4 linked regions of the Homo sapiens genome follow. The protein of the gene in region 2 interacts with the protein of the main gene of each other region in a biochemical or structural test. Each region holds a gene or a part of one and is shown on either strand. Other genes may lie near its edges.

Region 1 (5,480 bases), on a different chromosome or scaffold from region 2:
ACCCTGTGGGACTGGGAACAGCCTGAACACAAGAACTTGGTCTTTGTCATCTTTTTTTTTTTTTTTTAAGGAGAGTCTGGAGTACACTGGCACAATCATGGCTCACTGCAGCCTCAAACTCCTGGGTTCAACTGACCCTTCCTGCCTCAGCCTCCTTAGTAGGTGGGACTACAGGCACATGCCACCACGCCCAGCAAATATTTGTTTTTATTTTTGTTGAAATGGAGTCTTGGCTGGGCGCGGTGGCTCACGCCTGTAATCCCAGCACTTTGGGAGGCCGAGGCAGGCGGATTACGAGGTCAGAAGATTGAGACCATCCTGGCTAACATGGTGAAACCCCGTCTCTACTAAAAATACAAAAAATTAGCCAGGCATAGTGTTGGACGCTTGTAGTCCCAGCTACTCAGGAGGCTGAGGCAGGAGAATGGCATGAACCCAGGAGGCAGAGCTTGCAGTGAGCCGAGATCGTGCCACTGCACTCCAGCTTGGGCGACAGAGCGAGACTCCGTCTCCAAAAAAAAAAGAAAAGAAAAATCAGCCTGGAGTTGCTTTCAGACAGGAGTTTTAGTCACCACTTAGGGGTTACACATCTTCATGTCCTATATCAGACAGAGGCCAAGTTGTGGGGCGTTCATTTTATTGGTGTATGACGTAAGAGGATGCTGTGTTTCCAGACTTAAGTAGACTAGATGGTTCTCAAAGAACTGTTTTCAGATTTTCATAATTTCTGCATACCACGTATGGTGTAACTCTGGTGCCTCACTGGTAATGAAAACAAGAAAATTCCTTAGAAGCCTGGAACTCTTGTTAAATAGGTAGCTATTTGTATGAACAGGAAACTGAGTCAGCTTATTAGGAAATGATAAGATTCTGCAGAAGAACATATTGTATAGTTTTCCGTAGAAAGAGGAGAGGCTTAATTCCTTTTTGTTTTGAACTTAGATCAAATTACTCATTAAACAAGATGATGACCTTGAAGTTCCCGCCTATGAAGACATCTTCAGGGATGAAGAGGAGGATGAAGAGCATTCAGGAAATGACAGTGATGGGTCAGAGCCTTCTGAGAAGCGCACACGGTTAGAAGAGGTGAGTTTGGGTCTCTCACAGCTATCCCAGAGGAACTTGCACTCCCAGAGGTCGGAGGTCATCCTGAAGCCTGCCAGGCCAAGGTGTACTGAGGGCAGTGGGAAGTGGAAAAGTTAGCAGGCATGGATGCTGACCCTGGGCTCTGCTGTCCCCTGGTTATGTGGCCTCAGGCAGGTTACTGGACTTCCCTAAATAGTGGCTTATCTGTCCAATAGGATCCTGTCAGAAGAAATGAAATTTAGGACAGCTCAGCTCTGCGGCTAGATAGCAAAAAAATAATGTAGAGAAGCAATAAATAGTGTAACCCCCACCCCTTCCTTTTCTACTGTCTTCTAGCATCACTTACTATGCAGTCACTGCAGAGGAGCAATGTGGGTCTGCATCCCTTGGCCAGGCCCAGTCCCAGACAATTACTGCAGGGGAGGTATCTTGTATGTGAAGATACCAGTGGTTTTCACCATGTGGACCTTGGGTCTGAGCTGCTTAGTGATCTGGGGCTGGGCCCAGTGGCCTACCCAACACTACGGCTTCTGCAAGATGTAAAATGACAGGCAGAAGGTGGTTGTTCCCATAGCACGGAGGGCCACGTGATGCTTTTGAAGATGGCCTCTGGCTCCTGATCTTGGTGTGTGACCTAGAATTTGCCCCCGTAATGTTCTAGGGTCTTCCCTTCATCCTCAGCCTGACATTTCCCGGTAATGTGCTTTTGGGAAGCCTTTTTGAGCCATATTTGAGATGTTCAAGACATTCTTCATTTGGGGAAGGGGCAATGCCCTTCAAACTGAGGCATGCTTCTCTCTTCTTTCTCACCTTTGTCACCCCTTTCACTAGGTTTGGGTGTCTCATAGGGAACCTCTTGGACCCACTGTTATATTTTCTTACCTCTTGCCCAGCTCTTTGTTCTATTTTTTGGAAGACTTTTTGTTTTTTGTTTTTTTTTTGTTTTTTCCCCAGACGGGGTCTCTCTCTGTTTCCCAGGCTGGCCTCAAACTTCGGGCTCACTCGATCTTCCCACTTCAGCCTCCCAAGTAGCTGAGACTAAGCACATGCCACTACACTCAGCTTGGTCTTTATCTTCTAATCTTTGGTTTGTGAGGGGTCCTTTTTGTTCTCTGAATTTTTTTTTATATAGCATTCTTTTAACTATCGATGAGCTGCATTTCATTGGTTCCCAAATGTCAGTATCCAATGGGATTTCCCGGGAAACATTCATGTTCTACAGATAAGTCTTGGAATTTTCCACTCTGACTAATAAACAAATATTTTTTAAGCACTTACTATGTGCCAGGTACCAGTTAGGCCCTGGGGTGCGGGTATGAGAGCAAAGTCCTGCCTTTGCAAAGCTTTCCATTGGGGGAGACAGATACTGATCATGTAAATGAGCACAATTAGGGAAAGCTTTCAGGTATCAAACATGAGTTAGCAGGGGATGGAGCCAAGAGGATTCCTGGGCAGAGCATCCATAGACACTGCAGCTCTGAGGTGGGAAGGAAAGTTTCAAGGAAGGCTTGGCCAGCAGTGCCAAAGGAACAGGCAAATGAGAACAGACCAGTGGGTTTGGCAATAAAGAGAAGGTAGGTTGTCTTGATGAGATACAGGAAAATAATCAGCGTTTCCTTTTACATACTTAACACATCAATTTGGAATTTGTGTTTGTAAATGTTTAACATAATATTCATGGATTATAATAGGCATAATTTCCCACCAACTTTTTATTTTGAAATTTTTTGAAATGTATACAGTGGTTGAAAGGATAGTACAGTGAATATCCATGTACCTTCAATCTAGAGTCAACAGTGGATCATGACTGTAGGTGGTCTCAGCTACTTGGGAGGCCAAGGCAGGAGGATTGATGAAGCCCAGGAATTTGAGAACAGCCTGGGCAACATGAAGAGAACCTGTCTCAAAAAAAACAAAAACAGTTTTTCACATTTGCCACATTTGCTTTCTTTCTGTGTATTCTTTTTTCTGTATTATTTGAGAATAGATTGCAGAAACTGATATTCTTTTTTATTTTTTATTTTGTTTTTTCTTGAGATGGAGTCTCACTCTGTCACTGAGGCTGGGGTGCAGTGGCACGATCTCGGCTCCCTTCAACCTCTGTCTTCTGGGTTCAAGCGATTCGCCTGCCTCAGCCTCCCAAGTAGCTAGGATTACAGGCATGCACTGCCACAGCCAGCCAGAAACCATGATATTCTACACATTCTTTCATAAGCAGCTCCTAAGAATAAGGACATTCTTCCCCATAAACACAATGCCATTGTCATACATAAGAAATTAATAATATCCTAATATCATGTAATATTCAGCCCATATTCAGGTCTCTTTAATTGTCCTCAAAATATATTTTGCAGCTATTTTTATTTCTGAACTATTCTCCAATCAAGATTAAGACATTTAGCTATTCCTCTTTACTGTCTTAACCTAGAACCATACCTTACCTCTTTTTTTTCTTTTGTTTTTAATGACATTGAAGGCCAGTTCTCTTTTCTAATATTTACTACTACTTGTTTCTTCATGGAGTACTTTAACTTGCTTCTCTATCCCTGCATTTTCTATGATCTGTAAATTAGGTCTAGAGCGTTGATTTTAATAACATTAAGCATTCTTGAGAAGAATACTTTTTATATAATTAAAACCTGTGCATGATTTATAACTAAGTATGTGTATATTAGAGGTATATATATATTTTTTTGAGACGGAGTCTCGCTCTGTCGCCCAGGCTGGAGTGCAGTGGTACGATCTCGGCTCACTGCAAGCTCCTGGGTTCATGCCATTCTCCTGCCTCAGACTCCCAAGTAGCTGGGACTACAGGTGCCTGCCACCACGCCCAGCTAATTTTTTATATTTTTAGTAGAGACGGGGTTTCACCGTGTTAGCCAGGATGGTCTCGATCTCCTGACCTCATGATCCTCCCACCTTGGCCTCCCAAAGTGCTGGGATTACAGGCGTGAGCCACCGTGCCCGGCTGCTTTTTAGAGGTATATTCTTAGAAATATTTTTACCAGCCTGGTGTGGTGGCTCAAGCCTGTAATCCCAACACTTTGGGAGGCCAAGGCGGGTGAATCACCTGAGGTCAGGAGTTTGAGACCAGCCTGACCAACATGGAGAAACCCTGTCTCTACTAAATACAAAAATTAGCCAGGAGCAATGGCAGATGCCGGTAATCCCAGCTACTCGAGAGGCTGAGGCAGGAGAATTGCTTGAACCTGGGAGGCGGAGGTTGTAGTGGGCCAAGATCACGCCACTGCACTCCAGCCTGGGCGACAGAGCAATACTCTTGTCTCAAAAAAAAAAAAAAAAAAAGAAATATTTATACCAGACTGGACAACATAGCAAGACACTGTCTCTACAGAAAAATAAAATAAAAATTAGCCAGGCATGGTAGCATGGTCACATAGGCCCGGCTACTTGGGAGGCTAGAGTGGGAGGATGCCTTGAGACCAGGAGGTTGGTTGAGGCTGCAGTGATCCATGATCACATCACTGCACTCCAGCCTGGGCAACAGAGCAGGACCTCATCTCTTAAAAAGAAAAGAATGAAATATTTTTATTAATAAGGGTGCACATTCAAAGAGGTTTAGAGACAATAGGTTATAAATAATTGTTTTAAGGAGTTCTGCTATAGGCCGGGCGTGGTGGCTCACGCCTGTAATCCCAGCACTTTGGGAGGCCGAGGTGGGTGGATCACGAGGTCAGGAGATTGAGACCATCCTGCTAACACGGTGAAACCCCATCTCTACTAAAAATACAAAAAATTTCCCGGGCATGGTGGCAGGAGCCTGTAGTCCCAGCTACTCAGAAGGCTGAGGCAGGAGGATGGTGTGAATCCAGGAAGCAGAGCCTGCAGTGAGCTGAGATCCACCACTGCACTCCAGCCTGGGCAACAGAGCAAGACTCCGTCTCAAAAAAAAAAAAAAAAAAAAAAGAGTTCTGCTGTAAAGAAAAGAGGAGACATGGGGTCGAGAATCATTTTTACTTGTCTTTTAAAGGTTGGATGTTAGAGCTGGACCCCAGCAAAGATGAGAGTCCGCTATAAAAATAACCATAATTATACTTAATCTACAGGTGCTATAATATCGTGGCTCAGGTCACGGGTTTCAAATTTTGTATCTGCTATAACAGCTTTGTGACTGTAGGCAAGTGACTTAACCTCTGTGTGCCATTGTAAAATAAGGAGAATAACTAGACTTAATTGTTTTGGTTCCTACTGATGTTTAACAAATTACTCCAGAACCTAGCAGCTTAAAACAACCTTTTCCTTATGCTCATGGATTCTGTAGGTTAGGAATTTGGGCAGAGCCCAGTGAGGATGACATCTTTTTGATCTGTGATATCTGGGCCCTCAGGTGGGGACTCAATGGCTAAGAACTGGAAGCATGGCTCAGACATCTG
Region 2 (5,480 bases):
TTAAGAAAAGTCCTAGGATCTGGGCTGGGTGCAATGGTTCATGCAAGTCCTAGGATCTGGGCTGGGTGCGATGGTTCATGTCTGTAATCCCAGCACGTTGGGAGACTGAGGAGGGCAGATCTCTTGAGGCCAAGAGTTTGAGACCAGCCTGGGCAACACGGCAAAACCCCATCTCTACAAAAAATACAAAAATTAGCCGGGCATGGTGGTGTGTGCCTATAGTCCTAGCTACTTGGGGACCTGAGAAGGGAGGACTGCTTAAGCCCAGGAGGTGGAGGGTGCAGTGAGCCAAGATCATGTCACTGCGCTCTAGCCTGGGTGACAGAGCCAGACCCTGTCTCAAAAAAAAAAAAAAAAAAAAGAAAAGTCCTAATATATAGAACTCTTAGAATCAATGAAGGAAAAAAGATCCTATCAAAGTAGAAATTTAAAGTATATTAGTAGGCCGGGCGCGGTGGCTCACGCCTGTAATCCCAGCACTTTGGGAGGCCGAGGCGGGTGGATCATGAGGTCAGGAGATCGAGACCATCCTGGCTAACAAGGTGAAACCCCGTCTCTACTAAAAATACAAAAAATTAGCCAGGCGCGGTGGCGGGCGCCTGTAGTCCCAGCTACTCGGGAGGCTGAGGCAGGAGAATGGCGTGAACCCGGGAAGCGGAGCTTGCAGTGAGCCGAGATTGCGCCACTGCAGTCCGCAGTCCGACCTGGGCGACAGAGCGAGACTCCGTCTCAAAAAAAATAAAAAATAAAAAAAAATAAAGTATATTAGTAAATTAGCTGGGTGTGGTGGCTCATGTCTGTAATCCTAGCACTTTGGGAGGCCCCAAAGAGCACTAAGGAAGGCAGATCACCTGAGGTCAGGAGTTTGAGACCAGCCTGGCTAATATGGTGAAACCCTGTCTCTACTAAAAATACAAAAATTAGCTAGGCGTGGCAGCGGGCACCTGTAATCCCAGCTACTTGGGAGGCTGAGGCATGAGAACTGCTTGAACCCGGGAGGCGGAGGTGGCAGGGAGTTGAGAAGGCGCCACTGCACTCCAGCCTGGGGGACAGAGCGAGACTCTGTCTCCAAAAATAAAAATAAAAATAAAGTATACTAGTAAATTATTTAACACAATATATAGCTTTAGGCAAATGTAGCTATAACTATTAAAACAAGTTGACATATAGAAGAGGCCAAAATAAATTCCATCCTAAAAAATACACCAGGGAAAATGCATGTCACTGGATTTTAAAATAAGAGTTCATTATTTCAATTCTGAGTCTCACATGATTGCTTTGAAGACGCAATGCAATCGTGAAAATAGTTTCTCACTAGAAGTATTATATAAATGCAAAATAATGTTATTTAGAAGACACTTTTGCTTAGTAAAACTATATGCAACTCAGAGCATCTAAGGATGGATGGGTATCAGAAAATAAGACCTAATAAAAATCTCAACTTAGCCAGGTATGGTGGCTCACTCCTGTAATCCCAGCACTTTGGGAGGCCGAGGCAGGCAGATCACCTGAGGTCAGGAGTTCGAGAACAGCCTGGCCAACATGGTGAAACTCTGTTTCTACTAAAAATACAAAAATTAGCCAGGTGTGGTGGTGGGCACCTGTAATCCCAGCTACTCAGGAGGCTGAGGCAGAATTGCTTGAACCCAGGAGGCGGAGGCTGCAGTGAGCCGAGATCGTACCACTGCACTCCAGCCTGGGCAACAGAACAAAGCTCCATCTCAAAAAAAAAAAAGAAAAAAACAAAAACAACAAACTCAACCTGGAGTAGTTTATCTATTTAATGGGTGAGTAAGAGACAGTCAATCTTGGTGAGAAAAACCATATTTAATACTATCTTACCATGTCAATTTAAAACTGGCTAAATGTGCCTTTGATTCTCATTCTTGGCTCAAAAAGCAAATGGAAAATCTGATAGGAAGTCTTTGAATATTCAATTATAAAGAATTTGAATACTTTGATTTTTATCCAGTTGGTATTAAAATGAAGATTATACTTTTCAAGTTAAAAGTAGTATTTTCTTAAAAAGGGAGTTTTTCATAAAAGCCAGGTAATACACCATCTACCTGCTGATAATTATGAAGTCTTGTAGTACTTTTGTGGCAAAGCTTTCCATATCCTTCAAGATAACGACAACAGGAGGAGACTGCCATTGGCTAGAAGTAGTCCTTTTTTTGCTTAGCATTTTTGGGTCCGTCTTCTTTTAAGCCATTGCAGAAAGAAAGAGTTAAAGGTAAGCCTTACCACTCAAACAATGTTATAATGCCACATGTTGACATATCTCTCTTTAAATTTCACAATAACACTGTTTATTTTTTTTCTACCACACGATAAATAGAAACTCAGGTTACTAGAATCTTGCTGTGTCTGACATGGGAATAATAACCAAGAAGAAAAAGGTTCAGTAAAAATCTATAACTCATATGAAATATTTATATTTTCTGCTAAGGAAATGACAGAAAAAAACATGGAAGAGGAAATTTTCTACAAAATTGATTTTTCTGTTGGTAGAAAGTTATATTCTGCTTTGCTTTATAGTGAGAACTAGTATTTTTAATGAAAAAAATATAATGAATAGTAGTGCTTGCTACTCTGCCACTGTGAAATTTCAAGCCTGAAATGGATACTAGGTATCATCTGGTCCAATCTCAATTTTTAAAAAGATATCTGACATAAACCAAAAGTAGCATTTTATCTGGAAAGTCTAAAATTGTGGAGCAAATCAGGTATTATGGTAAGTATTAGACGTAGTTTAGTCCCTATATAAAGCAAAATGAAACTTCACTTACGATGATTTCAGCAAAAATGTTGATTGGAAAATGTAACCACAGTATTTTTTTTCCCATACTGTCTGGCTACACAGCACCATAACCTAAGACTATGGTTTTATGACGCAATTACCTAGTGTTAACCTAGGTTATTATTTTTCACCAGACTGTCATGGTAGAATGGAACTTCTTTTTACTTATCTGTTTGTCTAACATACTTTACTTAAAGAACACTGATTCCCTAAGAACTCTAAACATAAAACAAATTAGACTTTAGAAAATACATGATTATTCTTCATTGAACTAAGTTGACAGTGGATACTAGCAGCATGGTTCTATTGGACAAAGCAAACATTGAGGAACATAAGAGATAATATACTAAAGTTATAGTTACTGTCACAGAGATGGAACATGCAACAGAAGCAATTCCTGATGCTCTGTTTTTGTCATTAGAGGACATTCTCCAACAAATAATATGTCCTTGTAAAAACCTAAGCACTTACCTGGAATTAGGCTGCATACTAATAAAAGAACATTTTAAAATTCGAGTAGCATTAGAAAAAATAAATACCTACTTTTAAATTAACACCTAGTGCTGCAGAAACATATCCTTGTTAGATCAAAACAGTACTGTCTAATATTATTCCAAGCCACATCAATCATACGTCAATTTCCTGGGAGAAAATCATCAGTTTATATCTACCTGTGTGACAGTCATATACCAACTGGAAAGTGAATCCATTGAATAATGTGTCTTTCTTTGGGTGACGTGAACACTTTCCTCCTCTTTGGATTTTATATCTACACAGCAGTCCATCAACTGTGAGATCAACTTTTGCAAAAAATGTTTCATATCTGTGGAATATAAAAAGTAAGAAAGCTTATCTCTGCCTCTTCTAAAAATAAAACCAAAGCTCTTGAAACTTCTTGCTGAGTGTATTACTTTTTTTTTTGGTAGAATGTGTTTTTTTATACTTACCATCAATACAGCTAATGTAACATTTAACATATTAACTACTGATGCTCATTAGTACCTTCATTAATTCAGACTAAGACTAAACCAAAGCTTATGTATATTATCTTTATTTTTTTTTTTTGAGATGGAGTCTCGCTCTGTTGCCCAGGCTGGAGTACAGTGGCAGGATCTCGGCTCAATACAACCTCTGCCTCCCGGGTTCAAGCAATTCTCCTGCCTCAAGCCTCCCCAGTAGCTGGGATTACAGGCGCGTGCCACCATACCCAGCTAATTTTTGTATTTTTTAGTAGAGACGGGGTTTTGCCATGTTGGCCAGGCTGGTCTCGAACTCCTCACCTCATGATCTGCCTGCCTCAGCCTCCCAAAGTGCTGGGATTACAAGCATCAAACACTGCTCCCAGCCATTTATGTATATTATCTATAATAAAAAGGTCACAGAAGCAAATGTGTAGATATGCAAACTATAAATTTTAGGAATATGTATTTAAATTACATAGGAAAATAAACAGTTTTCAAGTTCCCTAAGAAAAATCAAGTGTCATATGAATTATTTTACTGATTATAAATCTTTCATATAGCCATTTTTAAAGATGCCTTTAAGGGCTTTTACTTAATTTCAATCAGTTTATGAATATGAAAGCAATATAAGCACATAAATCTCTTTTATCAATCTAATCCAAACAAATTTTACCACATTAGGGCCAGGCATGGTGACTCAAGATGTAATCCCAGCACTTTGGGAAGCCAAGGCAGGAGGATTGTTTGAGCCCAGGAGTTCAAGACCAGTCTGGACAACACAGCAAGACCCAATCTCTACAAACAACAACAACAACAAAACCCCACAATGTAGCTGATGTAGCTGAGCGTAATGGCATGCACCTGTAGTCCTAGGTACTGGGGAAGCTGAAGTGGGAGAACTGCTTGAGGCCAGGAGTTCAAGCTGCACTGAGCTATGATCATGCTACTGTAGTACAGCCTAGGCAACAGAGTGAGACCCTGTCTCAAAAGAAAAAAAAAAAAAGCTTTTTAATATATTAGTGTGAACACTCTTTATGATTTCATGGGTTCACATGCTCAGGATTACCTCTGTCAGTGGACTATTTTTCACCATGGTGGCTTTTCAAAGTGGGACAATAAGATGATTTATGGCTGAAACATGAGCCCATGTGGTCTACTCTCTTTTGAGCTGACAAGAGCTCCTCATTCCCCAATTCTCAGCTTTCTGTCCTAAGTCTTTCTACTTATTAAACGTTTCACTGGGTTAAAGAATGCATCTCACAAAATGCCTGGACTGCTACCGGCAGTTAAGCTGATAGGGCAGAAATGGGTCAAGAACAAAGACAGCAAAAGAAGGCAGAGTTCTGTAATAGTCACAATTACTCTGAGAGCCCCCAAACCTCACCCTGCCTAAAACATAGCACTGTGTTCTTTCCACCAAAAAAAGGGATAAAGAAAGCCTGAAAAAGAGAGAAAAGGATGAAAGAAGTCTGTAACATCTCATCAAGGTTATTATGGCATTTATATTTTTACCTGGACAATCTTTAGCTTGCAATGAGACTACATATGGTGTGACATTATTCTGAAGGGCCTCTGTTAGACTTCCGAATGTCAAATCATGATCTGTGACATTCACACCTATGAGATAATACATCAATATTACATCACCATTTTTATTAATAATAATTTAATGACAAAAGCTATTTAACATATCAAGCAAACAAGTAAAAACATTTAAA
Region 3 (6,098 bases), on a different chromosome or scaffold from region 2:
TGGAAGAAGCTCTTAAAGTAAATAAGAAAAAAAACTTCTGCCTTAATTTTTGGAAACAATTTCCTTTGCATGAATAAATAGAAGCCTGAAGTAACACAGTGGGAACCTGGACTATGATCATCCAAACCTGCAGATTTCAAGGGAGTGCTTTCTAGTTCCACTTATTTATACTTTACAAAGGTTGCTGTTAAAAGATAACCACGTTGCTTTTCCCATAAGTGGTCTGAAGTAATCTGTGAAAATAGCTGGCTATTCACTTTACCTGGAAAACCCCACAAAATCATGCAAATCAAGAGGTTCAAATCTTTGTGTTCACTGTAAGAACACTCGTGAAACTGCCCAGGCTATCAAGGGTATGCATATATGAAAAACCACAAAGTGGCCGGCACAGTGGCTCACACCTGTAATCCCTGCACTTTGGGAGGCCAAGGTGGGTGGATCACTTAAGGTCAGGAGTTCGAGACCAGCCTGGCCAACATGGTGAAACCCCGTCTCCACTAAAAATACAAAAAATTAGCTGGGCGTGGTGGCATGCTTGTAATCCCAGCTACTCAGGAGGCTGAGGCAGGAGAATCACTTGCACCCAGGAGGTGGAGGTTGCAGTGAGCCGAGATCGTGCCACTGCACTCCAGCCTGGGCAACAACAGCAAACCTCTGTCTCCAAAAAAAAAAAAAAAAAAAAACACCATGAAGTATTTTTAAAATGTCACTTTACAGAAACAGCATGTGCCATTCTGACATTACAATGGTGGAGTTGGTAGGTGTACCCAGGCCAAGCAGTGGGACTGGACACAAGGTTGGTGGCCCAAAAAGAGTGCTGAATTTTTGCTGCACATGCTTAAAAATGCAGAGAGTAATGCTGAACTTAAGAGTTTAGATGTAGATTCTCTGGTCATTGAGCATCTCCAAGTGAACAAAGCACCTACGATGTGCCAACGGACCTACAGAGCTCATGGTCGGATTAACTCACACGTGATCTCTCCCTGCCACATCGAAATGATCTTTAGTGAAAAGGAACAAATTGTTCCTAAACCAGAAGAGGCGGTTGCCCAGAAGAAAAAGATATCCCAGAAGAAACTGAAGAAACAAAAACTTATGGCACAGGAGTAAATTCAGCACTAAAATAAATGCAATTAAAAGTGAAAAAAAATGTTTTCTCAAGAGCAATACAAAAAAGTTAAACACATAAGGCATGTGATCACAGTCAAGAGAAGTCTCAATCACCTCTAAATAGATCATCTACAGCAGGATCACCTATGGGGTGGGTAAGGTGGGACAGAATGCAGGGAAAGGGGGATTGGTGAGTTTAAGTGTCTGATTCCATTAAATTGCTTATTAAGGCCAATCATAAATTAATACAGTACATGTTTTGTATAAGCTGTACCTCTTAGTTACACTCATGGACTAGAAAAAAGAATTAAGTATAGACCTTATTAAGTTTGGTAAGAAATAAATAGGGTTGATACATCAATTGGAAAAGCTTCCTTTGAGTTGAAGCTGCAAGAAACACGAATAAAAATTTTAAAGGAAAAAGCTGTACATGTAAAAATGTTTCTATCTTAACAAAAAACTAATTCAGTCCTGTTAAGTCTTTATAGTACTCAGCAAGCAAATGAAAATAATTTTATAGAATCAGTGTTTTAAATACCCATATCATTTGCAACCAGCACTACTCTCAGATAAAATGACATATGATTAAATATTAGTAAACAATTTTTACACGTTTTTCTACTTTATGAAAGCAAAAGACAAAATAGTGCCATGTATTAAATCAGCACAACTTTATATCTTTGAAATAAAATTACTGAAATTTTTCTTACCTTAAATCAGGCAAAGGTGAAGGATTAATAAAAAGATTTTTAAATCTGTAATTTGTAAATCTGGAGAAATCACTTGTTCCTATTTCTTTGTGAGGTGTTTCAATGATAATGCAAGGACTGATCCCCCCAGATAATACAGGTGGCCAACAATTCTGTCATAAAAAAAAAGAAAAATATCAATTTGTGCAAGGAAAACCTTAGTTTTTGTAATGGATCTTTCATAAATGAAAGCTAATATGTCTAAAGAATCATAATTTTAGCTAACATAGATGGCAATATAGCTAATTTGACATTCACATTTTATAAACAAGCCATATAGCTCATATTGATTTTTATAAAGAGTAATAGGATGTTTTAGACAACAAAATGCAATTCTGGTAATAGAAGACACCAGGTGTCGAAGAAGGACAGTAATAACAAAATGCATCTGCAGTCTAAAATACTAATCACTTTCAAGATCACAGAATCGTTCTCTGTATCTAGCAATAGTAGCAGGGACCTTTTTTTTTTTTTTTCAAATAAGCTCTTTTTAAAAAAAGTGTGCTCTGATACTTTTGAATATTTGAAAGCAAAACCTTAAAAATGGAATCGATTACTTAAACGATTCTTTTCCCAATAATGCTGGTTTCAAACGCAATCACTATCTCCAAAGTGCTGCTTTCTGTAAAACACATAGGAAGAAGAGGTACCAAAGGGCTGCGTGCCAGGCTGTCAGTGATCTCACATCCTATTTATGCCCAAGAAGCAGCTATTAGGACCGTCTACTAGAGTCTGCGAGGGAACAAAGAGCAGTATATTGGACAGATTAGGCGGGCCCTGGTGCACCAGGCAGTTCCAAGAGGGAGGGATTTACAAAAAGGAACCAGCTGCTTGAAGGCACTTATTCTGCAGCTGTAGTAGGATTCGGGCACATAGAAACCACCCAAAGATAGGCGCCTTCCTGCTGACCTCTAGGGGCATTAAAAGTAAAAGTGTCAGAGGAATCTATCGCAAAGCAATAAACACATAATTCTATTCTTATTCATCTATCCTCCATTTTTCCCCCAAACCCACCCAGCCCAGTTCTGCATTACCCTAATTTCATACTGATGTTTCTTGGTGACCTCCTCTCTTCTTTTTTTGACATCCTGGAAAATAGAAAAGACCATTGGTAAACTAAAGTCCCAGCATGGAATTTCGTTCCTCCCTCTTTCTCCTTAAATCACCTGGGTAGTTTTCCTCTTCTTGGCCTGGATTATCTGGGCTTCTTGGGGGGATTCCGTCTGGCTGGGCTGGGGCTGCTGCTTAGCTTGTAAACGGCTACTGTAGTGAATTTTTAAAAAGGAAGTGTAATTAGTAAGTTAAAGGCAGCAACTAATTTGAAACATGTCTCTAAGACAGATAATGTTACCTTCGTCTTGACATTCTCTTCTTTCAGGTGTATAAAACCTCTGAAGGGGGGAGAGGAAAAGCCGCAGTCAAGTACATTGTCATTCACATTCTCCAAGTGCCAGTAAGACGCTGATTCGCAGGTGAAAGCTCAGTCCCTCCGAAGGGGGCCTGGGCCCTGTGACCCTGCCATCTTCTGTGCTATGTTAGCTAGCTCATGGTAATTCATTTTGGATACAAGCCTGCATTTCCTCAACTGAATGTACAGCTGGAACGCGAGTGTCCAAAAATTTACCAAGCACTCCTGACACCTTGAACGCGCAGGGAGGCACATCTTCCTCAAACGGGTTTTTCTGGGTCCTCCACCCTCTCCCCCGTACACCGGGAGTGGGGCTTGGGCAGCGCCCCCACGTCCCGCCTCCCTCCTGGACCAGCGGGGAGAGGGGGTTGTGGAGGCGAAATGCTGTGGAGAAGCCGGTTCCGCGCCAATTTGGAGAGCGGCGGTGGCGGGGAAGCAGGGGGCGGAGGAACCAAGACTGGTGTCACGGCCTCCAGTCTCCTTTCCCTCCTTCCCGGCCCTGCCGCCCTACCGCCGCTCGGAGGGGCGCCGGGACCCCAACTCCAGATGGGAAGCGGAGGGCGTGGGGGAGGGCAGGAAAAGGAGCTAAAGAAAGGGGAGACTGGGCTGGCTGGGAACTTTTCTCCCCATGGAGGGGACCCGGCCTCCCATCCTCTCTCCCACGGGATAGCTCCCCAAATGAGGGTGGGATAGAGAAGCCCCTAGAATGAGGGGCGGCTCTCCATGCCCAGCCGCTTCCCGGTCCCCTGCCAAGGTTCCTGACAGGGACGGAACGCGGGAACCCATGACCCCCAGTCGTCTAGTTCTCAGCCCTCCCGATTTTCCTCCCTGAGGCTCCCGCCTGTGGTAAGTGATCGGCCCAACTGGGCTTTCTTTCCTCCCACATCCCCCCTACGCGCAGCAACTCCTCACCGCCAGACCAGCTACCGCTCGGCTCAGCTGGCGCCGGCGCCAACCCAATATATAGGCCGGGCCGGTCCCGCCCCGCACGCATGCGCCTCAGACTGACACCTCCGGACAGCGCGCTCCCCTCTCCCGCCCGTCCGCCCGCGTGCCCGCGCGCCGCGCCCTGCTCTCAGTGCGCGCCCGCCACCCGGAGCGGCCGTGGGGTCCACTCTACCGGGCCTTCTGCCCGCGTCCACCGCGCTCCACGGCGCGGCCGGCGGCGGTAGGGAAACTCTCAGGGGCTCCTTCTCCGCGGCTGTTCTCCCCGCCGCCTGGCTCGCGCATCTCCCGCCAGTTTGCTTTTGCTTCCTCCCACTGCAACTCCTGGATTTCGGGGGTGTCAGCCTGCGGCTCAGCCCGGGCGCATAACAGGGGGACACGACTCGGGCGACCATAGGGTGGCTGGGAAGTGACCGTCCAGGGGCGCGCCCTAGCTGTCCCGCCAAGGCCTCAGGGAACCCAGGTCTTTCCTGAGCGACGCGGGGACCCGAGGGCCCGCCCCTCGGGGAGGAGCAAAGCGTTGGCTGAAGAGCTGGCCAATGGGAGGCACGGGCGGCAGCACAACGTGGAGTGGCTGCAGAATGTAAACACCACTCAGCCACGCGCCTGGCCAAGTGCGGCTCTGCTCTCCCCAGTCCCGGTCCGCGACCACCCGGAGCCCGCTCCGCCGGCCTTGCGCGGCGCGCCCAGGGAAGGCATTTCCAGCCCGCCCACCCAGGTATGTATCAACCCTGCTTTCCGGCTCCCTGCTCCCCCTACCGGGTTTCCCTCCCCATGGGTCGGTCGCTCCCCCAACCCGCCGCTCTGCCCCTGCAGTGGCCTCCAGCTGCCACCCCGCAGTCCCCGCGCAGGAAACGCTCGCGCCACGCCGCGCCCTCCCTTGCTTCCTCTCTTCTCCACCTCCAATTCCGGGATCCCAGAGGGTAAAACCCCTCTCCGGAGCGGGGCCCGGGAACGGCATTCCTCCTCCCCCTGAGCGCGGTGGTCCCCGGGGACCTGGCCGGGTGGGAAGAAAGATCGCCACCACGTGCAGGCCCCGGGCCCGCCTGCCGCGCCCCGCCCCGCCGCCGCCGCCAGCGCGCCCTGCGGAGCCCGCGCGAGCCGGCAGCGCGGGAGGGCGCCGTTCGCGCCCGAGCGCTGTTGGGAGGAGGGGGGCCCGACGCTCTTCCTTTATCCTTCCCCGGGTGTTTAAACTTAGGGGTCCCTTCGCTGCCTCTATGAATGCCCCCACAACTGGCGCACCCCAAAACTGCACATCGTCAAGTCAGACTTGCGGCGGGTATTCCGCAAACAGGTTTTGCGGCGGGAGCAGCGAGGCGGGGAACAGCTCCGGGAACAAAGATCCCCCGGGTGGAGGAGCAGTGCGAAGGCGTCTCGGAACCCGCGGTAGCTCGGGCGGGCCGCGTCTGCCCAGGCCCTGAGCGAGCCGGACGGCGAGCGGGCCGCGCCGGGGAGACGGAGCCTCGCGGGCGGGAGCCCTTCCCGAGATGCACCGGGAGGCGGCGCCCGGCGACCCCCGCTCCCGCCCGGCCTTTTGTGCTGCGCCGCTCGAGCGCGCTTGAGGCCCGGGAAATAGCCGCCGCCGGATGGGCGCTTTGGGGCGGGCGAAGTCCTTTTTCACACTTTTTCGATTCTTCGTCTCGTGACGCCGGCAAAATAATTCTCTCCCTAATTTACCTGTAGGAGCTTTGCCCAAGGTGACAGCATCAGGAGAAGCCCATGCCTTGTCAGTCCCAAGAAACTTTCTGCCATTTCTAACGCTTAGGATGGCTCTCGGCGGGGCAGAAGTTGCCTCCCTTTTGCAGTCACTCAAAACGCAGTTAGCGGTATAGCTAGCTTAAAGGTCTAACAGCATGATGTCAAGAAAAGGGGTCAGGGGTCTCCCA
Region 4 (5,480 bases), on a different chromosome or scaffold from region 2:
TTAAAAAATAACCTTAAATGAAAAGAGAAGTGCACAAAGTGATACAACTTTGTCTTAATTAGCTACGCTGTTTCTCTGTGCTTTGCTGACTAGTATTGAATCAAAATCCTGATTGTCACTAAGGCTCCACCTAAGTAGAATCATACAGTAAGCTGTCGTGGATAACGCAGATGTCAGGTGTATTACAGTGAATAAAATGAAAGAATAGCCTAATGTAGATCGACCCCAATAATTTGTGTGTGTGTGTGTGTAATTTTTAAAAAAGACAAGGTCTTGCTATGTGACCAGGCTGGTCTCAAACTTCTGGCCTCAAGTGATGCGCCCACCTTAGCTTCCCAAAGTGCTGGTATTACAGGCGTTGAGCCACTGTACCTAGCCAACCCCAATAGTTCTTCCTCATAATTTATCTCATCCACGTAATCTAGTGTGATTTACAAACTGCTCTGCAGCTCAATAACTTTCTGTAACCTTAAACACAAGTAAAAGTGAGCTGCTACATCCAAGGAAGGAGATGGCATTGGCGGTGTGGAGAGAGGAGGTGAGAAATGGTCAGATTCTGGATGAATTCTGAGGTTAGAGCCCATAGGAGTGGTAGGATTCTGGGTTTGTTGGATGTGTGTTGTGAGAGAAAGAGAAGAATTGAAAGTGACATTTCTAATATTGCTTTCACACAGCCAAGATTCTACATTGCTCATCTGGGCATCTGAGCCTCCTTCGAAGTTTCCTGTCACAACTGTCCTCTTGACAGCATGGATGGTAAGACCTGGCAGTTTTCTGTTACTCTGTTTCAAGGAAAACTAACCTTTTGTCCATGGACTTGTTATTTATTCTACCTGTAAAATGGTGAAAATGCTCCCCAGCCCTCAGGTATTGTCTTAGTGGTTCTGAAGCAATCTCACATCTCACAGAGGTCACTGAATGTTACTTGCTTTTATCAGGGGAGATTTCTTCTGGCAACAGAGATTGTCTTTCATAATTACAATAGCTGGTAGGTGTACAGTGGGCCAGGCACTGCTCCAAGATCCTTGTGGAAATTAACTGATTCAGTCCTCAGGCAAACGTATTTTATAGGCAGAAAAACAGGGATGTTTAGTAACTTGTCACAGTTCAAGCTGGCATAGCAGGGCTTTGAACCAGGCAGTCTGACTTCAGAGTTTACATTTGATAATGAAATCTGCTGAAGCGATATTAGTCTAGCTCTGACTTAAGTTTTTATTAATATCATCCTTTCTAATTTTGTTCATTTTGCAAGGATGTGTACAAAATGTTTACCTAGAAAAGAGATGTTGCACTAATTAGCGATCACCTAAAATGATTGTGCTGGGCTGGACGCAGTGGCTCACGCCTGTGATCTCAACACTTTGGGAGGCCGGGGTGGGAGGATTGCTTGAGCCCAAGAGTTCAAGACCAGCCTGGGCAATAGAGTGAGACCTCATTTCTATTTTTAAAAAATTAAAATGATTGTGCTGGTTGTGAAGAGATCTAGTTGCATAATTGAACTCATAATCTGAAACTGGGTTTTTTTAAAAAATTCAAACATATTACACTTTGCCCTTTAAAACAAAACTTGAAATTCCTCACACTGTGATGCACAGTGGACCCCCGTTGTCCCTGAGAGATGTGTTTCCACACTCCCAGCAGATGCCTGAAACCCAGGATGGTACCAAACCCTAGGCATGCTGTGTTTTTTCCTGTACATACATACGTGTGATAAAGTATAATTTATGAATTAGGCACAGTGAGAGATGAACAACAATAATAAAATGGAACAATTATGACAATATACTGTAATAAAAGTTATGTGAATGTGGTCTCTCTCTAAAGTATCTATTGCACTCTCAAAATATCCATTGTACTGTCCTCAACCACAGTGACCATGGAAAATCAAAACCACAGAAAATAAACCCTCAGATAAGGGGTTATTCCTTATGTGAAACTCATTGCCTGATGCTATCATGGTAGTTTCCTGTTTCTTAAAATTGGCAAATTGCCTACAGGGCAGGTTATATAATACAAAGCATCACTTTTTGCTATCAGATTGACATGAAAATAAGAGGTGAATGGATACCTGTTCTCTAAGAAATCATAGTATCTATCTGGAAACAGTATAGGTCAAGAAAGAAGAAATCATAATGTTTAGGCTGGGTGCGGTGGCTCATGCCTGTAATCCCAGCACTTTGGGAGGCCAAGGTGGGTGGATCACCTGAGGTCAGGAGTTCGAGGCCAGCCCGGCTAACATAGTGAAACCCCATTTCTACTAAAACTACAAAAATTAACCTGGTGTGGTGGCATGTGACTGTAATCCCAGCTACTCAGGAGGCTGAGGCTGGAGGATCACTTGAATCTGGGAGGCAGAGGTTGCATTGCATCGAGATCCCACTACTGCACCTCCAGCCTGGGTGACAGAGCAAGACTCCATCTGAAAAAAAAAAAAAAAAAGAGGAAAAAGAAATCATAATATTTAGTAAGAAAATCTCATTTGATTGGCATGGGTTCACAATTTGGCCGGTGTAGAGGAAATCGGAGACTGTATGGTACTTGGGATATACTGTTGAACAATGTTCCTGCTTATATTTTAGTGGAGGGAGAAAGATAACAAAACAATAAACGGGTAGTTAGTAGATGGGAGACACTGCTATGTCTTTGTATGCTGACAGGAGTGCTTCAGAGGAGAGGGAGAAACTGGGGATTCAGGAGCCAGAGAGGTGGTAATTGTAGAATGAAGTCTTTGAGAAGCTGAGAAGTGGGACCCAATGTAAGAATGTAAGTGGAAGAATTGGCTGTGAATAGCACTAGATACTTAGTCCCAGGAGGGAAAGCAGAGAAGATACGTTCAGAGTTGGGAGTGAAGGATGAGGAAGTCTGATTACATCTATTTTTTCTGTAAAATATAAGCCAAGGGCTGGGCGCTGTGGCTCACGCCTGTAATCCCAGCACGTTGAAAGGCCAAGGCAGGTGGATCACCTGAGGTCAGGAGTTCGAGACCAGCCTGACCAACATGGAGAAACCCCATCTCTACTGAAAATACAAAATTAGCTGGGCGTGGTGGCACATGCCTGTAATCCCAGCTACTCGGGAGGCTGAGGCAGGAGAATCACTTGAACCTGGGAGGTGAAGGTTGCAGTGAGCCGAGATCGTGCCATTGCACTCCAGCCTGGGCAACAAGAGCAAAACTCTGTCTCAAAAAAAAAAAAAAATACATACATACATATATATATATATATATATATATATATCATCAGCTAAGAGTAAAGAGTGGGGAGTGGGCATAGGAGGTTTGAGGAGAGACAGTGTGAAGTGGTCAGAGCCTGGGAAAGCGAATGAATTGAGGAAGTGTGGGAATCTTTAAGCAGTGCTGAATGCTTGTTTGTTATGGGTGTGCAAAAATTTAAAGTTAGACTGAGGCAGGGTCTTGTTGATCATACCTGTAGTCCCAGCACTTTAGGAAGCCAAGGCAGGAGCATCGCTTGAGGCCAGGAGTTCAAGACGAGACTGGGCAACATGGCAAGACCCCATTTCTACAAAAAAATATTTAATAAGCTGGGCATGGTGGTGTGCACCTCTAGTCCCTGCTGCTTGGGAGGCTAAGGCAAGAGGATCGCTTGAGCCCAGGAGTTTGAGGCTATAGTGAGCTAAGATTGCAACACTGCACTCCAGCCTGTGTGACCCTGTCTTGAAAAATAAATAAATAAATAAACAAACAAAAAAGACCAGTCAGCATGGTAGCGAGTCTTTCTCCAGGACCATTCACCAGCCAGGGAGCTGAGTCTTTAGAAGGCAGTGAGTGATGATGGTGTTGAACATGGATCCACAGGGAGGGCATTAGGGGCAGGGGGTGATGGACAGGAAACACATTGTAGGTAGGCTGATGGGTTAGACATGTGGATGAAGCTGAAGAGCTGCTGGATGTGAATACTAGAGTGAGCGGGCTGAAAGGATGGGAGGTTGGATCACAGAGGGACGTTCAGAGGTCAGTTGTGCTTTGCTGTGATGAGTTGGAGTTACTATGGGAGTGGGTAGCTAAGATGGGGAGTGGATGAGAAACCCAGCGACCAAGATGTTGGCTGGATCATCCTTGCGGAGGTTGAAGTGCCCCAGGAGGGTGATAACAGTAGAGATGGAGGGGAGGACCGGGGGGGGCATGCATGATACACATATGATGATCAGCACATGACAGTGCCATGAGGGGTTCTTGATGCCAGCGTCTGGTGTCTTGAACTTCAGAGAGCTGTGATCTGGAAAAAGACTGAATCATTCCAAAGTGACAGTGATAAAGAAGACATCAGGAACCTGAAGTTGATCAACAAGTATTTGTTGCATGCCTAATACGTGCCGAACACTATTCTAGACATTGCCATGTGAGGTGTGAACAATTAAATGCTTTCCATTCAAGAGGCTTCCAGGGGTAGCCAGATTTCTGTTGTAAGAGCCACTGGGGATCCGAGAAACGTGCTGATAGTAGATTTCACATCCCAGGGGTTTGAGAACAAAGAGGCTGGGAGATTGAGTCAGCGTAATACAGAGAAGACATGATTTTTGGTGGTGACTGAGGTAAACGGGGTTGTGAGGCACCATGGGATTAGCCCTCGTTCTCTTGTGAAGGGTTCAAAGTGAATAGTATGGGGTCCCCAGGCAGCATTTTCCACCTGTGGCCCCCAGTGGTGTGAGCCAGAGCCTCTTCCCGGGGTGTGCCCTCTTTGGCAGACGGGAACAAGAGATGGTGGAGGCCTCTTTGCTTCCTTGCAGGCATGTGACATTCTCAGAGCACAGGGGGCTGCCTGGCCTCTTCTCTCTTGCACTGTGCAGCCTTGGAGTCTTTGTGGACTAAGCAACTCAAGCTAATCCTTATACAACCTCTGACTGAGCATTAGGCCCCATCATCAGATTCTAGGCCTGAAGTTTGGCTACTGGCTTTTTCCTTCTGGTAAGGGAGTGTAGAGTGGTGGAAAGGATATTGGTTTGCTGATCTAGAGATTCCTTATTAACCCAGCTCCTGAACTGATCTGTTTCTCCATGTGATCCTGAACAAGCCCCTCACCCTCTCATACTCTAGCCCCTGAATTTCAGACAAGGAGAGTAGGTCAGATATCCTTAATATTTTTCCATTGAATACCTCTGATTTTATAAACAAATAGTGCCCAAATAGGGGGGAAAAAAGAGCAAAGAAAATAGATAAATCAAGAAAGAAGAAATCCGATTGGCAAATAAACAAACAATTCTTAACCTCACCAGTAATCCAAGAAATGCAAATCAAAACAGTGAGATGCCTTTTTAAATCGTCCATCAGATTGACAAAAAAATATTTAAGTGACACATCAGATATTGATGAGGTGGTGGGGAGAAGTGGCCCTTGTGTACAGCTCTAGTGAGAGTGATACAGATGATAGCAATTATTTAGGGAGATAGTAAGGGCAACAGAGTCCTCAGCAGAATTTCCCTTTTAGCAAAAAGCAGCCCCCAAGTAATTTCTAACAAGGCCA

What was found.
Region 1: the proteins of ORC3 (region 2) and CDC45 form a complex in vitro, tested with the Homo sapiens proteins (one large-scale study listed by BioGRID and IntAct).
Region 3: the proteins of ORC3 (region 2) and CCNE2 form a complex in vitro, tested with the Homo sapiens proteins (one large-scale study listed by BioGRID and IntAct).
Region 4: the proteins of ORC3 (region 2) and MCM10 form a complex in vitro, tested with the Homo sapiens proteins (one large-scale study listed by BioGRID and IntAct).

Annotation. Positions count from the first base shown.
Region 1 is NC_000022.11:19,482,920-19,488,399, forward strand, and holds part of CDC45 (cell division control protein 45 homolog), read left to right. Parts: intron 1-942; coding exon 943-1,086; intron 1,087-5,480. UniProt on the Homo sapiens protein: Required for initiation of chromosomal DNA replication. Core component of CDC45-MCM-GINS (CMG) helicase, the molecular machine that unwinds template DNA during replication, and around which the replisome is built.
Region 2 is NC_000006.12:87,605,816-87,611,295, reverse strand, and holds part of ORC3 (origin recognition complex subunit 3), read right to left. Parts: intron 5,380-5,480; coding exon 5,275-5,379; intron 3,624-5,274; coding exon 3,472-3,623; intron 2,201-3,471; coding exon 2,067-2,200; intron 1-2,066. UniProt on the Homo sapiens protein: Component of the origin recognition complex (ORC) that binds origins of replication. DNA-binding is ATP-dependent. The specific DNA sequences that define origins of replication have not been identified yet.
Region 3 is NC_000008.11:94,890,998-94,897,095, forward strand, and holds the start of CCNE2 (G1/S-specific cyclin-E2), read right to left. Parts: upstream 4,205-6,098; 5' UTR 4,180-4,204; intron 3,251-4,179; 5' UTR 3,225-3,250; coding exon 3,211-3,224; intron 3,123-3,210; coding exon 3,026-3,122; intron 2,948-3,025; coding exon 2,894-2,947; intron 1,973-2,893; coding exon 1,821-1,972; intron 1-1,820. UniProt on the Homo sapiens protein: Essential for the control of the cell cycle at the late G1 and early S phase.
Region 4 is NC_000010.11:13,163,454-13,168,933, forward strand, and holds part of MCM10 (protein MCM10 homolog), read left to right. Parts: intron 1-674; 5' UTR 675-749; coding exon 750-756; intron 757-5,480. UniProt on the Homo sapiens protein: Acts as a replication initiation factor that brings together the MCM2-7 helicase and the DNA polymerase alpha/primase complex in order to initiate DNA replication. Additionally, plays a role in preventing DNA damage during replication.